4 separate regions of the Homo sapiens genome follow, and all the other regions are linked to region 1. The links come from fine-mapping of genetic effects on gene expression. A gene starts in region 1. Each other region holds a variant in brackets. All regions are shown on one strand. Distances are from middle to middle.

Evidence for each region. PIP is the estimated chance that this variant, and not a neighbour inherited with it, causes the effect.
Region 2: its variant is fine-mapped to the expression of GPR27 in whole blood (TOPMed, PIP above 0.99).
Region 3: its variant is fine-mapped to the expression of GPR27 in whole blood (TOPMed, PIP above 0.99). The same link has a PIP of 0.9 or more in blood mononuclear cells.
Region 4: its variant is fine-mapped to the expression of GPR27 in whole blood (TOPMed, PIP 0.96).

What each region holds. Positions count from the first base shown.
Region 1 is chr3:71,751,084-71,756,241 of GRCh38, forward strand. GPR27 (G protein-coupled receptor 27) reads left to right here and starts at 2,772. Exons shown (of 1, transcript NM_018971.3): 1 at 2,772-5,158. The coding sequence starts at 2,967. The coding sequence ends at 4,094. It also overlaps a transcript of EIF4E3 not described here.
Region 2 is chr3:71,774,811-71,779,941 of GRCh38, forward strand. All of the region lies in intron 2 of PROK2 (prokineticin 2), which reads right to left. Among named protein-coding and RNA genes, the nearest start is that of PROK2, 7.8 kb to the right of the region's middle. The variant C/T (reference allele first, on the strand shown) is at 2,904.
Region 3 is chr3:71,802,768-71,807,925 of GRCh38, forward strand. No RefSeq gene overlaps it. Among named protein-coding and RNA genes, the nearest start is that of PROK2, 20 kb to the left of the region's middle. The variant C/T (reference allele first, on the strand shown) is at 2,669.
Region 4 is chr3:71,793,037-71,798,194 of GRCh38, forward strand. No RefSeq gene overlaps it. Among named protein-coding and RNA genes, the nearest start is that of PROK2, 10 kb to the left of the region's middle. The variant T/C (reference allele first, on the strand shown) is at 2,042.

The sequences.
Region 1 (5,158 bases):
TTAGCGGGGCATGGTGGTATAAGCCTGTGGTCCCAGCTACTCAGGAGGCTGAGATAGGAGGACGGCCTGAGCCTGGGAGGTTGAGGCTGCAGTGAGCCATGATGATGCCACTGACTCCAGCCTAGGTGACAGAGTGAGACCCTGTTTCAAAATAAATAAAGTCAGACTTCCAGCTCTTACACTTACTTGAAAGTAAGTGTAAAGTAAGTGTAAGTGGTGAAAGCGTGAACAAATTAACCCTTCTGCCTCCTCTGCAAAATGAAGACAGTAACAGCACATACCACATCTGGCCATTACAATGATTACATTAAATAACACATGTCGAGAATTTAGCACAATGCTTGGCATACGGCAAGTGCTCAGTAAAAGGTGGCTGCCATTAGTATTACCATAAAGCAACCAGAGTTGGTGAATTTGTGTGGGTTATTAAGAAGGCATTCCCTCCTCTGGGCAGAGGCAGCCCAAGCGCTAAGGGCCACAGCAAGGCAGGATCGAATTCTCTACAGCCATGGGTCTAACTTTAAACAAAGAAATAAGAAACCATTTCCTACCCTCCCTTGCTCAAGTGCTCACTCTCAATTGATAGCCAATGATATGTTTAAGTGTTTGTTTATAATGTAGGGCTTCTAGAAAGCTCTTCCTACTTAGATGGCTGGAATATTGCTGCTCTTTTCCCTTTTCTTCTTTCTGCCTGGAATGAAGAAATGATGGCTGGGGCGTCGGCAGCCTACTGTGATCATGAGGGAAGGGCTAAAAGATTTTCAGAGATTCAGTCCTTGAGCCAATAAATCAATGTCAGCAACTACTGACCTCCAAACTTCTTCTTTCACGAGGAAAATAAACTCATGTACACGTTTTTTGCTACTAGTATCAAACTGCAATTCCTAACCCATACACCCTCCAAAATCTATTTTCTATCAACATACATTTACAGATGTGCCTGGTCAGCCACTTGCTGCTGGCCACTTAGGAGTCCCAAGTCAGGTGCTCAATAGTTGATTTTCTTGAAAAATCACTTAGATTTTTAAAAAAATATCCAAACTGTCCCCAAGGGCCTTACTATTCAAAGTAAGGTCAGCAGACCAACAGCATTAGTCTCACCCCGGAGCTTGTTAGAAATGCAGAACCTCCGGCCCCATTCCAGAACTACTAAATCAGAATCTTCATTTTAACAGGGTCCCCAGTGATTTCTGCACATAGTGAAGTTTGAGGCTCTGGACTAGGTTTACCGGCTCTGCTCTGTCATCCCTCCTCAACACTGCTGCCAGAATAATGTTCCTGGAGCACACCTAGTCATGTCGCTCCCCTTCTCAAAAGATTTCAAGGGCTCCTGACTGCCTGCAGACTAAAGTTTCGACTTCTTAGCCTGATCATTAAGGCCCTCTATGATCTTGCACTATCCTGAAAATGCCCATCAAGGTGCCTGCCTTGCATGTAATCAGTAGGCAACAAATAATTTTCTGCACAGAAGAAAAAACAAATGAGTGTGGGTGAGAAACAATGCGTTGCTTAATTCTGGCTTTACCATGCTAAGCACTGGGGATGCAGTGGTACCAAAAACCAGGCATGATCCCTTGCCTTCAAAGAGCTTAGAGCCTAGTTAGAAGAGCATGATTTTTAAAAAGAAATGAAAGTATATAATGACAAATTATAAGTGCTAAGAAGGAAATGACTAGAGGGCAGGGATACAGAGTAAAACAGACGGGTTAGAAGGAGGCCCTACGGAGAGGGAGCCTGTTGTGGGGCTGGTCCAGGCAGAGGTACCAGCACATGCAAGGTCCTGCGAGACAAATGCGGTGTGTCTGAGAATCATAACAGGGGCTGCCCTTTCAGGCTTACCCAGAAAATAGATATCCTGGGAGGAAGGTGGCATAGGGTTCACCTTCCAAGTCACTTAAAGATGAAATGCTGCATTTCTTTTCCCTGATATAGGTCCTTCACCGGGATCACGGATGAGTTAGCGAGCAGGGGATGCTGCGGAGTCGCTGTGAGTCCAGCACTGGAAATCAGACCAAGCGAAATTTGAATCCCAGCTCCGCTACTTCCCGGCTCTCAACTCCCTTGACCTCCAAGCCTCTGCTTCCTGAGGTATAAAGTGGGATTAAGGATGGCAACAACTTCGTGATTACTGTTGAGGGAGATAATGCTTGCCAAGCTCCCCAGCACACTGCCACCCACATCAGTGCGCACCTGAGTATCAGCGGTTTTAGGATTACGATGACTATTACTATCGTAAATTACTCCCAGCTTTCGGGCAGAAGGCTCATTCCAGATATTCCTGTCCCCTCTGAGGCCTCCCGACCCTGCCAGCCCAGGCAACCTCCCCCGCGCACGGCCACCGTGACCCCAGCGCGGGCGCCGCCGCCGGACCCCCGTTACCTGGGGCCAAACGCGACTTGTCGCCACCTTGCGTCCTGGGCCCTGCCTCCCTCCCGGCCGCCTCCCGACCCCGCGGCTGCTGCGGAGGCGCCCCCAGCCCAGCCGGGCCCAGGCGGTGCGGGATGCCTCGGCGGGGCTGGCGGCGGCGGCCGCGCTGCGCGCTCCGGCGGAGGGGAGGGGGCTCCGCGGCGGCGGCGGCGGCGGCGGCAGCGGCGGCAGCGGCGGCGGCGGGCCCGGCGGGGGGCAGAGCCAAGAGGCGCGGCGGCAGCAGCGGAGGAGTAGGAGGAGACGGAGGAGGATGCGGGGGGCTGCGGACGGTGGCGAGGCCCTGTCCGCAGTGAAGCCCGCGGCGCCTAGGGCGCAGGGAGTGGCCGCCTCCTCCTGCGCGCACCATTCCTGAGATGGCGGCGGCGGCACAGCGGCGGCTCGGGGAGCCCAGGAGGGGCCGGCCGGGAGCGGGCTGAGCCCCGCAGGACGGGGAGCTCGCCCAGGGCCGGCGGAGCGGCGGAGCTCGGGCCGGGCGGCCTGCGGGAGCGGCGAGGCAGGGGACGGCCCCGGGGCGGAGCGCACGGCCTGGTGAGGCCGCGATGGCGAACGCGAGCGAGCCGGGTGGCAGCGGCGGCGGCGAGGCGGCCGCCCTGGGCCTCAAGCTGGCCACGCTCAGCCTGCTGCTGTGCGTGAGCCTAGCGGGCAACGTGCTGTTCGCGCTGCTGATCGTGCGGGAGCGCAGCCTGCACCGCGCCCCGTACTACCTGCTGCTCGACCTGTGCCTGGCCGACGGGCTGCGCGCGCTCGCCTGCCTCCCGGCCGTCATGCTGGCGGCGCGGCGTGCGGCGGCCGCGGCGGGGGCGCCGCCGGGCGCGCTGGGCTGCAAGCTGCTCGCCTTCCTGGCCGCGCTCTTCTGCTTCCACGCCGCCTTCCTGCTGCTGGGCGTGGGCGTCACCCGCTACCTGGCCATCGCGCACCACCGCTTCTATGCAGAGCGCCTGGCCGGCTGGCCGTGCGCCGCCATGCTGGTGTGCGCCGCCTGGGCGCTGGCGCTGGCCGCGGCCTTCCCGCCAGTGCTGGACGGCGGTGGCGACGACGAGGACGCGCCGTGCGCCCTGGAGCAGCGGCCCGACGGCGCCCCCGGCGCGCTGGGCTTCCTGCTGCTGCTGGCCGTGGTGGTGGGCGCCACGCACCTCGTCTACCTCCGCCTGCTCTTCTTCATCCACGACCGCCGCAAGATGCGGCCCGCGCGCCTGGTGCCCGCCGTCAGCCACGACTGGACCTTCCACGGCCCGGGCGCCACCGGCCAGGCGGCCGCCAACTGGACGGCGGGCTTCGGCCGCGGGCCCACGCCGCCCGCGCTTGTGGGCATCCGGCCCGCAGGGCCGGGCCGCGGCGCGCGCCGCCTCCTCGTGCTGGAAGAATTCAAGACGGAGAAGAGGCTGTGCAAGATGTTCTACGCCGTCACGCTGCTCTTCCTGCTCCTCTGGGGGCCCTACGTCGTGGCCAGCTACCTGCGGGTCCTGGTGCGGCCCGGCGCCGTCCCCCAGGCCTACCTGACGGCCTCCGTGTGGCTGACCTTCGCGCAGGCCGGCATCAACCCCGTCGTGTGCTTCCTCTTCAACAGGGAGCTGAGGGACTGCTTCAGGGCCCAGTTCCCCTGCTGCCAGAGCCCCCGGACCACCCAGGCGACCCATCCCTGCGACCTGAAAGGCATTGGTTTATGAGGGAGGCCCCGCCACATAGACCCCCAACCCAGCCTTTCCCTTTGGCTCGGACGGTGACGTTGTATCTTTTCCTTCTGGCCCCTGTTTAATTTTCTAAGCTGCCTTCAAAATGACTCGAAGTGGACAGACACTTGGATTGTACTGACTCCTTTGGGGGTGGGGTGGGTGAGGAGTAGGATGCTCAGCCCACTCCAGCTCCGCACATTCGTCCTCCTAACTCGACTTTCTTCCTGACAATAGGCCCTGCAGTCTTTTTGTAGCGGTACTGACGTCTTTTATTCCATGTGTGGTTCCTTTTTTTCTTTTTCTATAAAGGCTGTACTAATTTTCTTCATGCAACGTTTCCTAAAGACCATGGCCAGTTTTCTACAGAAGCTATTTTTGACAACCTCAAGTGGCATTACATTTTGCAGTGAAGTAGAGGAACCTAGGGGGACTTCTTCACAAGTTAGATTTCTTGAGGATCTTCTGTTGGAAGCAGGAGAAAGTGGGGGGTGGGGGGAAGTTGTCCGAAATGCCCTCTGAATTGCCGGCTGCAGGGTCCTTGTGCTGCGCTGGTTCTTTGAAAGTCTCAGTGTTGATATTGAACTTAAAGAGCAGAGATGGAGATCAGTAGCAAGGCAGTCATTTTTTTAAAGCAGTAAGTAACAAGTAAGATTTGGTTCCCGGTTTACTTTCTGCTGCTAAAAACCACGTCAGTGACAACTGCTCTCTGTATTATAGCAATCTTGAATGGAAACATTTCTGTCAAGTTGTAAGTTTTAAAAGAGTAAAGTGTTTTGGTTAGTAATGATGTGGAGAAAAATACAGTATTGCATGTGTTCGTGTGTATAGATTGTGGTTCGAGGATTGGGAGGGCTCTGAGAAGCAGAGTACTACATCAAAATTGTTTTAAGTATTTTTTGCCAATAAAAAATTAATTTTATGGAAATGGCTTGTGCTTTGAGAAGCCCAGTTTTATTCTGTCTTATGAAACTAATTTCCACTTTGAAAATTGTTCTTCTGTTGTTTATGGTATAAATGAATGGAATATAATGATATCCTCCTTCTAGGAAACAAAGCAT
Region 2 (5,131 bases), 24 kb after region 1:
CAGCTAGACTGGCTTAGACAGTTATAAGTGGATAGCATGAGAAGTGATCATCAACGACCTTTATAGCCCATTCTGACCCTGAGACCATAAGTTTCCTTTCTGCCAAGCCTAAAACTGCTGCATGGGCCAGTGATTCTCCACTAGGGACGATTGTGTCCCCAGGGGACATTTGGCAATGTCTGCAAATGTCTTCATTTGTCACAACTAAGGGCAGGGAGGGGGATGCTCTAGGCGTCTAGTGGGTAGAGGCCAAGGATGCTGCTAAACATTTTACAATGCACAGGACAACCCCTACGACAAAGAATTATCTGGCCCAAGACATCAATAGTGCTGAGGTTGAGAAAAACAAACACAGATAGCAATATCCAAGTAAAAGGAGCCTGAAGTGTGTCAGTGAAATACACCTATAATGAGCATGTTAAACTGTTACAAACAGAGATCACCAAATATGTTTCTTTCATTCACTCATTCAACAGATACTGAGTGCTACCTACATACCAGGCCCTATCTTAAGTGCCGAGCATACAATGATGAGCAACACAGGTGAGGCTGTGCATCGTGGAGCTTCCCTCTTGATCATACAAGACAGAACACCAGTAAAATTGTTTCAGCTGCTGGTGCTCACAGCCTTGTGCTTTCTGCATCATGACACTATGATCATTCTCTGGCCTGTCACATGGGGTGGGCAGTACCTTGGGCCCAGCAGAAAAGAAAAATCACATGGATTGTGCGCCATGGGTCAGGTCTCAGAAGGCATCATGTATGAATGTCATCCCAAACCTCAGCACCAGATTTTTGCTTTGTCTGAGATAGAGGTAAGTGGCTTCCTTTTGAGGTGAAGCAAAGGTCCTGGACTGAGGTTACTCAGCTAGGAGGGGAAAGTGCTCATAGTCAAACAGGGTCCTGCTTTCTTCCAGATTTTGCTCTCTTCTCAAACACCACCAAGCCCAGACTCCAGACTCTCTAAAGGGGGGACCATATCCATTTTACTCATGAGCATATAGCTCTTAGCCTGGTACACAGAAAACACTCAGGAGATATTTGCTATGTGCCAATCAAATGCCCTGCAATGCCCCACAGAGTCTAGGAACTCCCCGAAGGGCAGAAGATGACCAACTCAGATCCCAAGGCTCCCCTCACTGCCCTGCCCAGCTCCGAGCAGGCAAAACGTAACTCACACCACCAAACTCAGAGATGGACTCACCATGAAGCCCAAGAGGCCGAAGCCCCTCTCATGTATAGGCCTCTAATCCAGGACCTAGGAGGGACCCTGGTAGTGTGTTCACAAGGTCATCTGTTTTTGTGAAACTTAAAAAAAATCTTTGTATTATTTCTTTAAATCAAGGACACCAAGACTGTATGAACATCAATCTGGATCTGCCTTGACTGACCCTAACATAATGATTACACTGAACTGCAGGGTCCTTAATACTTAGGTGCTTTTTTCTCATTCAAACCCAGTTCACTCAGTTCTGTGAGCTCCTAACGACAAAAACCATGATTCCTTTTCTCTTTCTTTTCTCTCTTCTTTTCTTTTTTTCTTTTCGCTTTTCATTTTTTTTTTTTTTTTTTTTTTTTTTGAGACAGAGTCTTGCTCTGTTGTTGTGCCCAGACTGGAGTGCAATGGCATGATCTCAGCTCACTGTAGCCTCAGCCTCCCAGGTTCAAGTGATGCTCCCACCTCAGCCTTCCACGTAGCTGGGACTACAGGCATGTGCCACCATGCCCAGCTAATTTTTGTATTTTTAGTCGAGACAGGGTTTTGCCATGTTGCCCAGGCTGGTCTTGAACTCCTGGCCTCGAGTGATCTGCCCATCTTGGCCTCCCAAAGTGTTGGGATTACAGACGTGAGTCACTGTGCCTGGCCAAAAACCATGATTTCTGATATTATACACTCGGTAGATGCTTGTCCGTTTCTTGACTGGCCCACTCACTTCTAGATCTACAGATACTGTGTGACAAAGCTAACAGGCGTCTCATAATCACAAATGCAAGAGAAAGTGCTTACAGAAGATGCACACTGGAACCACTTAGTCCAAACTTCATGGTTTACTTTAGAATCAACCAACACTTAATGCAAAGTTTCCAATAGCCTAGAATTCCAAACAGCAAATTCTAGAAGTTACCGAGGCAGAACATCCAGCACTTTGAGAAAGCATGACTTTTACTCTTTTGCAGCACTTTTAAAGAGAAATTAGCACTTATAAAAGGGCAACATGAGGGATCCTTATAGTGATGGAAATGTTTTGTGTCTTAACTGTATCAACGTCAATATCCTGCTTGGAATATTGTACTATAGTTTTGCAAGATGTCACCATTGGGAGAAACTGGGCAAAGCGCATATAGTACCAAAGTTGAGAAACCTGTATTAGACTAAAGCCTATTTCTGTCTTGTAAGTCTTTTTGCTGAACTGAACCTATAAACACTGCTATGATGCTATCCCAAGAAATAATCATAGACAGTAGCTCTTGACATTGTGATAGGAAAGATGAGAAAATCAGCATATTATGCTTTCTTCCCCATCTTTTGCTAAATTTCTAGTTGCATTAGTTATATTTTAGTATTTTAAAATTTTTTTACTTTAAAAAATATGTAAAAATTTTAATGACTTCATATTCTGAAATTATGTTTACAATGTTTCCTCATAGGTTGGTTCTAAAGTAGAAACCACTAATAATTTTTTAAATATCAAGTTAAAAAAATAAAACAAGTACCAGGTTTTTATTTGAATTTTTTTCCTTCAGAAAAGGAAGGAAAGTGAAGTTTTTAAAAAAACCTGGTGCTAAAAATGTTCACATAAAAAGCGCAGGAAAATTTAAAAACAAGATTGTTTGAAGGAAACATAGTTGTTTAAACTGAAAAAATTCAGAATACAATAAGCAATAAAGATTAAAGTATTAAT[C/T]ACATAATTATTGAATACTAAAAAGTGTTCAAAGCTTTCAAAGCTAAACATTAGTCAAAATGGGAAGGAAATGGCTAATCTTCTATGTAAACTTTGGAAAGTTACCGGCATTAATAGAAACCTTGTTGTTTTGTCTTTTTTTTTTTTTAAACAGAAAGTTTCTTCTAAAGGCATGATTCAGTTAAGTCATTCTTAAGTGTTAAAAAATTGTGAAAAATGTGCCTGTAATCCCAACACTTTGGGAGGCCGAGGCAGGCAGATCACGAGGTCAGGAGATCAAGACCATCCTGGCTAACAAGGTGAAACCCCGTCTCTACGAAAAATACCAAAAACATTAGCCGGGCGTGGTTGTGGGCGCCTGTAGTCCCAGCTACTTGAGAGGCTGAGGCAGGAGAATGGCGTGAACCCGGGAGGCGGAGCTTGCAGTGAGCCGAGATCACACCACTGCACTCCAGCCTGGGTGACAAAGCGAGACTCTGTCTCAAAAAAATAAATAAATAAAATAAAATAAAATAAAATAAAAAATTTGAGAAAAATGAATACCTGTTAAAACTATTATTTGCTTTAAAATGTATTTAGAAAATATGCATACTATGCTTCCTAGGTGAACTCATATATCTCACATATTTTATTCTATCTTAAAATTATCAAACATAAAGTTCAAAACTATACAATTATAAAACAATAGCCTGTCAGGGACTGTAAACTGTACAAGTTAATTGGTACATGTTAAATAAAACAGCAAACTGAACTCGGTAGCTATAAACTCCTATCTATGGTTCTCAGTTTCAGTCATCAAATACTGTTCACTTGACCCAAATAAACGGATTTTCGGTGGCTAATGACTAAGCTGAAACAAAATGAAAAAAAAAATTCTATATAGGGTCTACATTTTTACTATCTACTAATGAGTCATTAAACTTCAGAGCATAATTGAATACTGTACATAATGTTCATCAGTATGTATTGAGGAAAGACTTTTTTCTTGAGTTGTTTTGAACAGACCATACAGCTGAGAGATATTCTGGAAGAAACTAGATCTTTTTCTACAATAGGTAAATTTCATCTGGAACAAGTACAACTCTAGGATCTTCTCTTAAAATAGGTCATCAAAATAACCTTTGAAAATGTATTTGAAGATAAAAAAGCAACCAATATGAAAAGTTAGAAAATAAAATTCCAGAAATACATTTCAAGTGAACATCTGAAAACCATACTCTATTATTTAAAGATTTCATTATTGGATCCATGATAAAAACAGAACCAAAGAGATGTAGCCAGGCTTATGCAAGAAGACTGCATTTGTTTACTTTCAAAATTAATCTTGGACTAAACCTGAAATTGAAGTTATCTAGGAACTAGGGAAATAGAATTCGGTTCTCTTTTAAATATTGCAGAGGATTGGAACACTCATCAAAACTATCGGACGACACAAATTCCCATTCTGAACTGTTATCACTCATTCCAGTGATCATTTTGTCTCTGTTATCCAAACAAACCAGTTTTGGTTAATTGGACTACAAAGTGTTCAAATTAAACCCAACGACTGCTTTCGCGGAGGCAGAAGCGTGTAATGATTAAGACCACATAAACAACAGAGTGTCACAAAGAATGAAGTTGAGTGTCTCTTGTTTACTCACAGCCTGTGTTGCTGAACCCCTCTGGGGCTTAATGTTGTATACAGGCTTGCTGTATTAAGTAAGAAGTACATATACAACATTTAATATAGAGGATCTGGTACATCACAGTATTTAACAAGGTGCAATTATGATTGTTATTAACACAAACATAGTTCCATGGGATATGTCACTTTTCCCTTGTTTCAGTAAACAGGCTATGTGATTCTAGCATCTAGGGCATGTGAAGCTGTACTAATACTGCATGAAAACAACACAATTTTTCTTTTTCCAGACAGAGTCTTGCTCTGTCACCCAGGCTGGAGTATAGTGGCAAGATCACGCTCACTGCAGCCTGAAACTCCTGGATTCTACTGATCCCCTCCCCCACCTCAGCCTTCCTGGTAATTAGGACTACAGGTGTGTGCCACCATGCCCAGCTAATTTTTAAAAATTTTTCTATAGAGACGGGGTCTCACTATGTTGCCCAGGCTGGTCTCAAATTCCTGGGCTCAAGCAAACTGCCTGCCTCAGACTCCCAAATTGCTGGGATTACAGTGTGAGCCACTATGCCCAGCCAAAAACAACGTAATTCTTAAAGGAGAAAGTTAA
Region 3 (5,158 bases), 52 kb after region 1:
GGGCACCATGGCTGCTCCATCACCAGCACGGGGCCTATGTCTAGTTGGGGAGTCAGGGGAAGGGGAAAGGTTAGAGTGCTTGCAGGTTGAGAATGTCTGCCTCTTCCCAAATAGGTACTTACAAAATTGCACTTTATTTATTTCCTATGCTGCATTTATTGCATTTGATAATGGCAGATATAATGGTTAATTTTATGTGTCAAGCTGACTGGGAGAAGGGATGCCCAGATAGCTGGTAAAACATTATTATTATTATTATTTAAAGGCAGAGTCTCCCTCTGTCACCCAGGCTGGAGTGCTGTGGTGTGATCTCAGCTCACTGCGACCTCCACCTCCTAGGTTCAAACGATTCTCATCCCTCAGCCTCCTAAGTAGCTGGGATAACAGGCATCAGCCATCATGCCCAGCTACTTTTTTTGTATTTTTAGTAGAGATGGGGTTTCACCATGTTGGCCAGGCTGGTCTCAAACTCCTGACCTCAAGTGACCCACCTGCCTCGGCCTCCCAAAGTGCTAGGATTACAGGCGTGAGTGCCTAGCCCCTGACTATTACCATCTTTTAGGGACCTTGTAGCAGCCACTGCTGATGCTCAGCTCAGAAGCCCTCACATTCCTTTACCATTTCCATGCTCTCCTACTTTGGCTGCATTGTTCTTTTGCTATGTCAGTGGGACCTGCAACAGAACTGCTCTCAGGCTCCCAGAGAGGCCCTGCTCTGCTTGTGCAGAGGGCCAGAAATGCCGGAGTGCTTTTTTCTGCTTGGGGTAGCCAGTAGCCAAGGACCTGCTAACCCAGCAGAATGAAAGCCCAGCTCCTTTATTCTGACTCAGGAAAAACCCTTAGATGCAGTTGACTCTCCAGAGCTCCCTGCAGGATCAGGTGGAGTCTGGCCTTTGGTTTGAGATCGCCACTCTGGTGGGCTTCTTCCTCTTGCTTTGCCGTGTTCCCCTACTCTTACTTTGCCCAGTGTTCCCAGGAGACCCTGCCTTCATAAATCATTTTCACAAAAATCTTTATCTCTGAGTCTGCTTCCGGGGACCAGACTATGCCTTTTTAATTCACCCAGTGCCTAGCATAGCACCTGACACATAGTGGGAGTTTGAAAACTTCTTCAAGACTGGTTGAAAAATGCATAATATTAAACCCAATTAAACAAACAGTCCTGTTGGAAAGACACTTTTGAAGCCAGTCAAATTCAGATGATTCAGTAACAATTAGTAACATAGGTTTGATTCTTTTTATTTTTTTATAAGACAGAGTCTCCCCCTGACGCCCAGGCTGGGGTGCAGTGGAGTGATCTTGGCTCATTACAATCTCCATCTCCTGGGTTCAAGCAATTCTCCTACCTCAGTCTCCTGAGTAGCTGGGATTACAGGCGTGCACCACCATGCCTGGCTAATTTTTTAATATTTTTAGTAGAGACAGGGTTTCACCATGTTGGTCAGCCTCGTCTCAAACTCCTGACCTCAATGATCCACCTGTCTTGGCCTCCCAAAGTGCTGGGATTTACAGGCGCGAGCTGCCGTGCCCAGCCTTACATAGGTTTGATTCTATCTAGCAGAACTCAAATTCAAAATAACCTGGTGAAAGTTGAATACTTAAATTTAAGGTCACAGATCACTACAATATGACAGGGACCAGGCATTTTTAGTGTGTACAATTCTTCTATCAGCTTAGGTTCCTGCTCAGAAATCTGAAAGTCTCGCCCCACTACATGCCACAAACCGTTTTTTTTCCTTTTTTTCTTTTCTTTTCTTTTTTTTTTTTTTGGAGACGCAGTTTCACTCTTGTTGCCCAGGCTAGAGTGCATTGGCATAATCTCGGCTCACTGCAACCTCCATCTCCCAGTTTCAAGCAATTCTCCTGCCTCAGCCTCCCGAGTAGCTGGGATTACAGGTGTGCAGCACCACACCTGGCTGATTTTTGTATTTTTTGTAGAGATGAGGTTTTGCCATGTTGGCCAGGCTGGTCTCGAACTCCTTACCTCAGGTGATTCACCTGCCTTGGCCTCCCAAAGTGCTGGGATTATGGGTGTGAGCCACCAAGCCCAGCCAAACCCTTATTTTTTTTAAGGAGGTTGTGCACACTGGTTCCCCAGAAGCAAAGCATCAGGTAATGTTAACTTCGGTTATTGCAAATGATGGCTGGAGGTCTGGGGAGAGGGATTGATCATACTGGGCACCTGCATCTCCTGTGCAAATCTCTCCTGGGGCCTCAATGCTTACGCAGTTTGCTCCATACACCCTTGGTTTGAGTGGACCCTCCCCTGGCTCACAGGCTGCCTTTCATTGTTCTGGGTGCTCTCAAGCAGTGATGCCACTGTGGGGCATGGTGCCTGACCCCTAGAGCAATGCCTCCTCCAGGCCCCAGAGAGCTCTCCCCTGAAAAGTCAAGGCTTGAAAGAAGGAAGCCTGCCATTGGCTGAGAACTGGAATTATTACAACCCCCAATGCTGGAGGTGGGACTTGCGGGAGGTGATTGGATCATGAGGGCGGGTTTCTCATGAATGGTTTAGTACCATCCCCCCTTGGTACAGTATAGCGAGTGAGTTCTCACAAGATCTGGTTGTTTAAAGCTGTGTGGCACCTCCCCCATTTCTCTCTTCCTCCTGGGGTGGCCATGTAACATGTGCCTGCTTCCCCTTCACATTCTGCCATGATTGTACATTT[C/T]CTGAGGCCACCCCAAAAGCAGAAGCCAGTATGCTTCCTGTAAAGCCTGAGGAATCATGAACCAATTAAACCTCTTTTCTTTATAAATTACCCAGTCTCAGGTATTTCTTTATAGTAGTGCAAGAACAGACTAATACACCCATTCTTGACTTTGGAGTTAGATTAGACTTCTGAAGTTCAAATCTCGACTCTGCTACATTCAAGCTGTGTAACTTTGGGCAATTCACTCAATCCCTCTCAGCCACAGTTTCCTATTTCTCGAATGTAGTTTCCATGAGGGACTGGGTCTTGGTCTTTTCCTGCTGTTGCTATATTCCCAGTGACAAGACAGTGCCTGAAGTATGGTAGGGGCTTCATAAGTATTTTCTGAGGAAATAAATAAGGGTATTTGTGAAGGCTGATGGAAATGATGGGTAGTATCTGGCACAAAGCAATCACTTAATAGTATCTGAGTGACTATCTGGCACAAAGCCAGATCTGGCACAAAGCAATCACTCAATAAATGCTAGCTATAAATATATAAAATATACATATGAAGATGTAATTTTATTTTATTTCTTATATCTGGTAACATAGTTTCTAACCACAATGTAATGTGTTAGAATTCATCCTCTCTCATGCCTGTAATCCCAGCACTTTGTGAAGCTGAGGCGGAAGGACTGTTTGAGCCCAGAAGTCGGAGACTGCAGTAAGCTGTCATCATGCCACAGCACTCTTGCCTGGGCAACAGAGTGAGATCCTTTTTCTAAAAACTAACAAAACAAAACAATTATTTCCAAAAATTTAAAACTTAAAAAAAATTAAAAATTGAGAAGTTTTTTAAAATATGAAAAAAGAGGCATCTCCATATTTTCTGAGAGCAATAGTACATTGGTGAACACTGATTGCCCCGCATCCATTCACTTGTGTCTTTCTTCCTAACACAACTCCGATTCTGACCAAGTATAGCTTAGAAGAATGTGACCCGAGACTCTAGAAGTAAATCTTTTTTTTTTTTTTTGAGACAGAGTTTCACTCTGTCGCCAGGCTGGAGTGCAGCGGCACAATCTCGGCTCACTGCAACCTCTGCCTCCCCGGTTCAAGCAATTCTCCTGCCTCAGCCTCCCAAGTAGCTGGGACTATAGGCACCCACCACCATGCCCGGCTAATTTTTTGTATTTTTAGTGAGACGGGGTTTCACCATGTTGGCCAGGATGGTCTCGATGTCCTGACCTCGTGATCTGCCCACCTCGGCCTCCCAAAGTGCTGAGATTACAGGCGTGAGCCACCGCGCCAGGCCAGGAGTGAATCTTAAGGAGGCTATTGGCATGTGCCATTCCCCCATCACCTGCCTGCATGACTCATTGGTCCTGTGACTAGGACTGGTTCAATCAAAATGAAGGAAACATTTATATTACACACTTGGAGATGTGGTTTTTCCATTTTTGACCAGGTAGTTGAGAACAAAGAAGTATGTAGCTCCAGTTGCCACTGACAACTGTCTTGTTATTATGAGGCACTTGGAAATGAGGCTTACAACATCATGAGAAAGACGGAGAGAGTCAGTTATCTGACGACATCTTTCAGCTACTGATGGTGCCACTCCTTCCAGTTAGGTAAGATAATACATTTCCTTACTGTCTTATTTTTTATTTATTTATTTTTGAGACAAGGTCTTGCTCTGTTGCCCAGGCTGGAGTGCAGTCGTGTGATCTGGGCTCACTGCAGCCTTGACCTCCCAGGATCAAGTGATCCTCCCACCTTAGCCTCCTGAGTAGCTGGGACTACAGACGTGTGCCACCACGTCTGGCTAATTTTTGAAGTGTTTTATAGAGATGGGGTTTCACCATGTTGCCCATGCTGGTCTCAAACTCCTGGCCTCAAGCAACCCTCCCTCCTCGGCCTCCAAAAGTGCTGGGATTATAGGCATGAGCCACTGAGCCCAGCCATTTCATTATTATTATTATTATTATTATTATTATTATTATTATTATTATTATTAAGACAGGGTCTCATTTTGTTGCCTAGGCTAGAGTGTAGTGGCAGCAAGAGGGCTCACTGAAGCCTCAACCTCCCAGGCTGAAATAAGCCTCCTGTCTCAGCCCCTCATGTAGCTGGGACTACAGGCATGCGCCACTACACCTGGCTAATTTTTGTACTTTTTTAACAGATAGGATTTCACTATGTTGCCTAGGCTGGTCTCCAACTCCTGAATTGAAGCCACCCACCTGCCTCGGTCTCCCAAAGTACTGTGATTATAGGCTTGAGCCACCATGCCCAGCCACCTTATTTTTTATGTCATTTAGGATGGGTTTTTCCAAGCCTTACAGCCAGAAATATACTACCTAGTGGGCTGCAAAATTATGTAGGAGATGAAACTAAAAATGTCTTCTTCGAATAATAATAGTAATGGTAGCCAATGCCTTCTTCAGCACAGTGTCAAAACATATGCCAAGCCCTTCAGCTATATTAGCTATTTACTCTCTCAACAATCCTATGAGGTGGAGACTA
Region 4 (5,158 bases), 42 kb after region 1:
AAGACTTTTTAAAAAAAAATTAGTATAAAATGCGTTTGAAATAATATGAGGGATCAGGATGAACATTTGGTTCTAAAAGATTTAGGTTTTATTCATTACAATGTTGACTGTATTTAATATCTATTTTTAGCATTGAAGGTGAGCCTTAAGGCTATGTATCATGTACTTCATTAAAAGGAAGAGATTGTTATGCAAATCGGTAGCATATTTGTTAACTTTCCAGAGAGAAAGTCTCATGCAGAAAATAACTTTCTTGGCCGGGTGCGGTGGCTCACACCTGTAATCCCAGCACTTTGGGAGGCCAAGGCGGGTGGATCACCTGAGGTTAGGAGTTTGAAACCAGCTCGGCCAACATGGTGAAGCCCTGTCTCTACTAAAAACAGAAGAAAATTAGCCGAGTGTGGTGGCAGGTGCCTGTAATCCCAGCTACTTGGGAGGCTGAGGTAGGAAAATCGCTTGAACCTGGGAGGCAAAGGTTGCAGTGAGTGGAGATCTTGCCACTGCACTCCAGCCTGGGCGACAGATGAGACTCTGTCCAAAAAAAAAAAAGAAAAGAATTTTCTTAAGAGGAAAAACCAGGGCTAGGTAATTACTTCTTTATTATTTTAGGTCAACATTTATTAGCTAGCCCACACAAATTTTATTTACTAATTTTTTTCTCCCCTAAATTTGAATTGTGTGTGTATATATATATGTATATATGTCTGTCTGTCTATCTATCTATCTATCTATCTATCTATCTATCTATCTATGTATCTATCTATCTATCTGTCTATATTTTTTTTTCCTGAGGGAAAGGACTTGGAAGAAATAATAAGACATCTGGGTATAGGAATTTATAGGCACAAACCAATTACAAAAATCTCCATTTCTAAATGTAAAGGCTGCCTCTTTCTATGCACTGCATATGGTAAGTACTCAATAAATCTCAATACATCTTATATAATACCTCCAGTTACCCTATGGGGTAGCTACCACCACAATTCCTATTTTACAAAGGGGGAAGTAAGATTTGCAGAGATTAACTGTGTCATACAGAATCACAGTAACTTCGAAATAGTAGAGCTGGGTTTCCACCCAGTTAGGTCTTATGCCAAATACTTAACTATTACAGCTTCTCCTTGAATTTATATGCTTTACTTAAATATTGCCATAAAAAATTTAGATAGCCAATAACCAAAAGGAAGAAACAATGACTATGATGTGAATTTTCCTCAAACTTATCTTAAAACCTGCCTGTTTCCCTCCCTCTCACCTCTTTCTCTCTGTTGCTTTCTCTCTCTTTCTTCTCTGTCTCTTTTTACAACTCAGAGATCAAGATTTAAAAACAAAATGGCAGAGAACAGGTACAATTCTACACATGTGACCTTTTGTCTGGAGGTATGTTTACCCTCAGAGGAATCCCCCGAAGAAGTTCAGAAGAGATACTATTTTTGTGAGTGGTAAGAAAGTGGGCCATCCGTGTTTCTGCTCTGCAGGTTCATTTGTCAGCGTTCTAAGTGGGGACTGGGTGCCTTTGCTCTCATAAGGTGAGTTGTCTATCAAAGGAATCCTCCCTGCTTTTTTAGGTGGCAAGATCAATTAGAGTGAGCCTAACACTGGAGACTGAGGACTCTAGTACAGCATCTGCCAGGGAGTGTGTCCTCTTAGAAAAATTGTGATTTTTTTATGATTAGATAGAGACCTCTTAGGAGCCATAATTTGTATTAGCACATTAAAGACCCCGAGAGGTTCTGCAAAAGGAAACTAGTTGTACCAACTTGGTACAACTCAGCATTTCCAAAATATTTGGTTACAGAGCACTTTTTGCATGTGCCAGGGATAAAAGGCTAGGCAAATCTCAATCCCTTATCTTGACCACATCCAAGCCTTAACAAAAAACCCACTCATGTAGAGGAATTTAGAGGAATTGGTTACATTTTGAATGTGTAGCCAATCTTGAATGAACTCATTAATCAAATACAGAAAATGATGGGATAATCTAATTCATCTAACTTGCTTTACAAATGAGGAAACTGATAATCCGAAAGATTTAATCTCA[T/C]AGGAACCAGGTGACAGAGCAGGAAATAGGCCACTGGTCTCCTGCCTCGAAGTTCTAGTTTTTCCCAACCATACTGGCTCCTCTTTGAGGTGTGGGGACCCCTCTACAAAACAGTTATAAACACACTTTCCAAAACACAGGAGACTACTTTTAGGAAGGTCTCTTCCATATATATCAAGTCATTGTGATCACCTGTTCCACTGTCCTCACAGTTAGAAGTGGCCATGGAGTGTGTGGTTGCATCCTGGATCTCTATCCACTGAAGTCATTTATTTTTTTCACACAGTTTGGCAGAGTTTGGGTTTGCTAAATGTATACGTAAGTATTATCAACCTTTGGCTCACGAATTAGCAAAAAGGATAGCGCAGGTTTGAGCGGGAGGGGACTGGAAAATTAATTTTGGTAGGATAAGACTTCACCTAGAGAATCCTAAGTGGCAGATTGCTAACTCTTTTCATTTGTTTACTTCCAAAATGTTTTCGAGCTGATGGATGCAATTCGCCATAATGAAAGTATTTCCAAGCCCTAGCCAATGATCCATGGTAACTGTGCTTTCATGATCTTGTTACAGCATTCTCCCTTCCATTTTCTTATGTGTTTGTCTGTTTAATAGGCCCCCATCGTAATAGCTAGAGGTGGAGGAGTAGAGAGAGGGAGAGTGGTCAGGAGGTGAGTTTACTGGGGTGCTTCAGATAGAACTGTTTTCCTTGCTGAGAGAATGAGGTTCCAGAACTCAGCCTTGACTGTAAGTTATGATTTTCCTAAAGGCTGATGTAAACCCCCAAATCCTATCTCGGCATCAACCGATTCCGGTTAATCAGTTATTTTAAAATGAATCAATTGTTAGTCTGATTTGTAATTGATCTCTTTTACATCTAGTTTGTGTGAGCCAGTAGATTTCAAACTTTTTATTTTTGGGGTGGAACATCCAAGTTTTGATAAGAGTCCTGTCCAACAAAACACTCCCTGGCCAGGCGCAGTGGCTCACCTCTGTAATCCCAGCACTTTGGGAGGCCGAGGCGGGCAGATCACTTGAGGCCAGGAGTTCGAGACCAGCCTGGCCAACATGGCGAAACCCCGTCTCTACAAAAAATATGAAAATTAGCCAGGCATGGTGGTGGGTGCCTGTAATCCCAGCTACTTCGGGGGCTGAGGCAGGAGAATCACTTGAACCTGGGAAATGTAGGTTGCAGTGAGCTGAGATGGCACCGTTGCACTCCAGCATGGGCAACAGAGCAAGACTCTGTCTCAAAAACAACAACAACAACAACAAAACTGAACCAAAAACAAAACCAACTCTCTCTGATTTCCTTTCATTTGTGGTTCTTTCACATGTAGGAGAGGAGGAGCTGTGAAGGAAGAACACAGGCAATTTAATTCACCAGAGATATACCGCCTATCACTGCTATGTGCCTGCAGGCACTGTGCAATAGGTGCTGTGAGAATAGTGCAGTAGCTGCTCTGTACGATGCAAGTTGCTACCAGATGGTTCTTTTTAGAGCAGCAATTTCACCATTACCACATTCAAAGTCTAAACCTGATTTCCTAAACTGGCAGCTCAGCTCATTAAGTCTACACCCCTCCTGAAGAGAATTCATGGTTCTCCGTGACTGATTATTGAAAGTTTACTCTAATTATAATAAGCCATGACATCAAGTGAGCTCTTGAAGTATAAAATGTACAACTACCCTGCAGTAGTCTTTATATTTTGAGCACTATTTTTATCTTTCTCAAACATTAAGATAAATTTAATAAGCATTTGAGCAAATTTTGGCTTTAGCAATGCATCATCAGAATTTGGGGGTTGTAGCCCATTATTCCCCCTTCCCCTTCCCAGGGAAAGTGCAGGTTTAACACACACTGAATCATCCGGGAGACATAGGCCGCAAATACAAACAGGCAGAAAAGCGTCTTGGTCTGGCGTTTGAGGTCTGCTTGTTAAAGTCTTTCCCATCCATTCATATTTAGAGAGTGCTACTCTGGAGTCAGATTTGGTAGAGTCCAATCCCAGCTCTGCCATCTACGGTCTATCTAGCCTTAGGAAAGATATTTAATTTCTCAGAGCTCCAGTCTTCTTCTCAATAAAATAGAGTGAATAATAATAATACCTACAGTGTAGGATTGTTGTGAGAATGAAACAAAAATATGTCTGACACAGTGTAAGAACCCATTAACACATTTGCCGTTATCAGAGGAAAAGGGTATTGTGCTAACGTCAATGTCCTGGTTTTGACAATGTACTCTAGTTATGTAAGATGCTGTTGTAGTGGAAACTATGGGAAAGGTACTCAGGAACTCTTTGTATAATTTTTGCAATGTTTTGTGAGTTTAAAATTATTTTAAAATTGAAAAAGGGATGTAGGGAAGAAAGAAAAAAGGGAAGTCCCAGGAGTACAACTTGGCAATGCTGACCACCATCAGGCCAGTGGAACTCCAGCCCAGGATGTGCCTGTCTGGCTCCCGGGACAGGCAGGTCCCTCTTGATGCTGGGCAATAGCACATTCAGAACACACAGACCACTGCCATTGGCCTGGCTCTGACTCACTGCAGCCGTTTGATTATACATGGACTTCTGGTGGCCTTGCCAGTGGGGAGAAGTCACGGGAGCCAGCGGCCTGAATGCCAATCCTTGGGCAGTGAAAGTAGTAAGGGTTTTCACGGTAAATCAATAGATTGACATTCTGATTCATGACCCAAATGGAGGAGACCTCTGGTGCTGACGAGTCAGGCTCTGAGTCTGCAAGGCTGAGAGAGACCCTGGATTATCGTCACTGGGTCAAGGTGAAGCCACCTTGTGAGGCCTCTTGGGAGACAGCCAGGAAGCCTTGCCCAGAGATGCCTCTCCTCTCCACCCCTCATATGAAGGGCTCTGTGCTTTTTAGGTTCTGGTTTTAATTACTCCCCAGCATAGCACAGTACAGCTCAATAGAACTTTCTGCAATGGTGGAAATACTCCATATCCATGTAGTCCCTAGCAGTACGGCTAGTCACAAGTGGCTGTGGAGCACTTGCAATGTGGCTAGTGCAACTAAGGAATGAAATTTTCACTTTAATTAAATTTAAATAGCCCCATGTGGCTAATGACTACTGTACAGTACAGGTATAAATTACAATTTT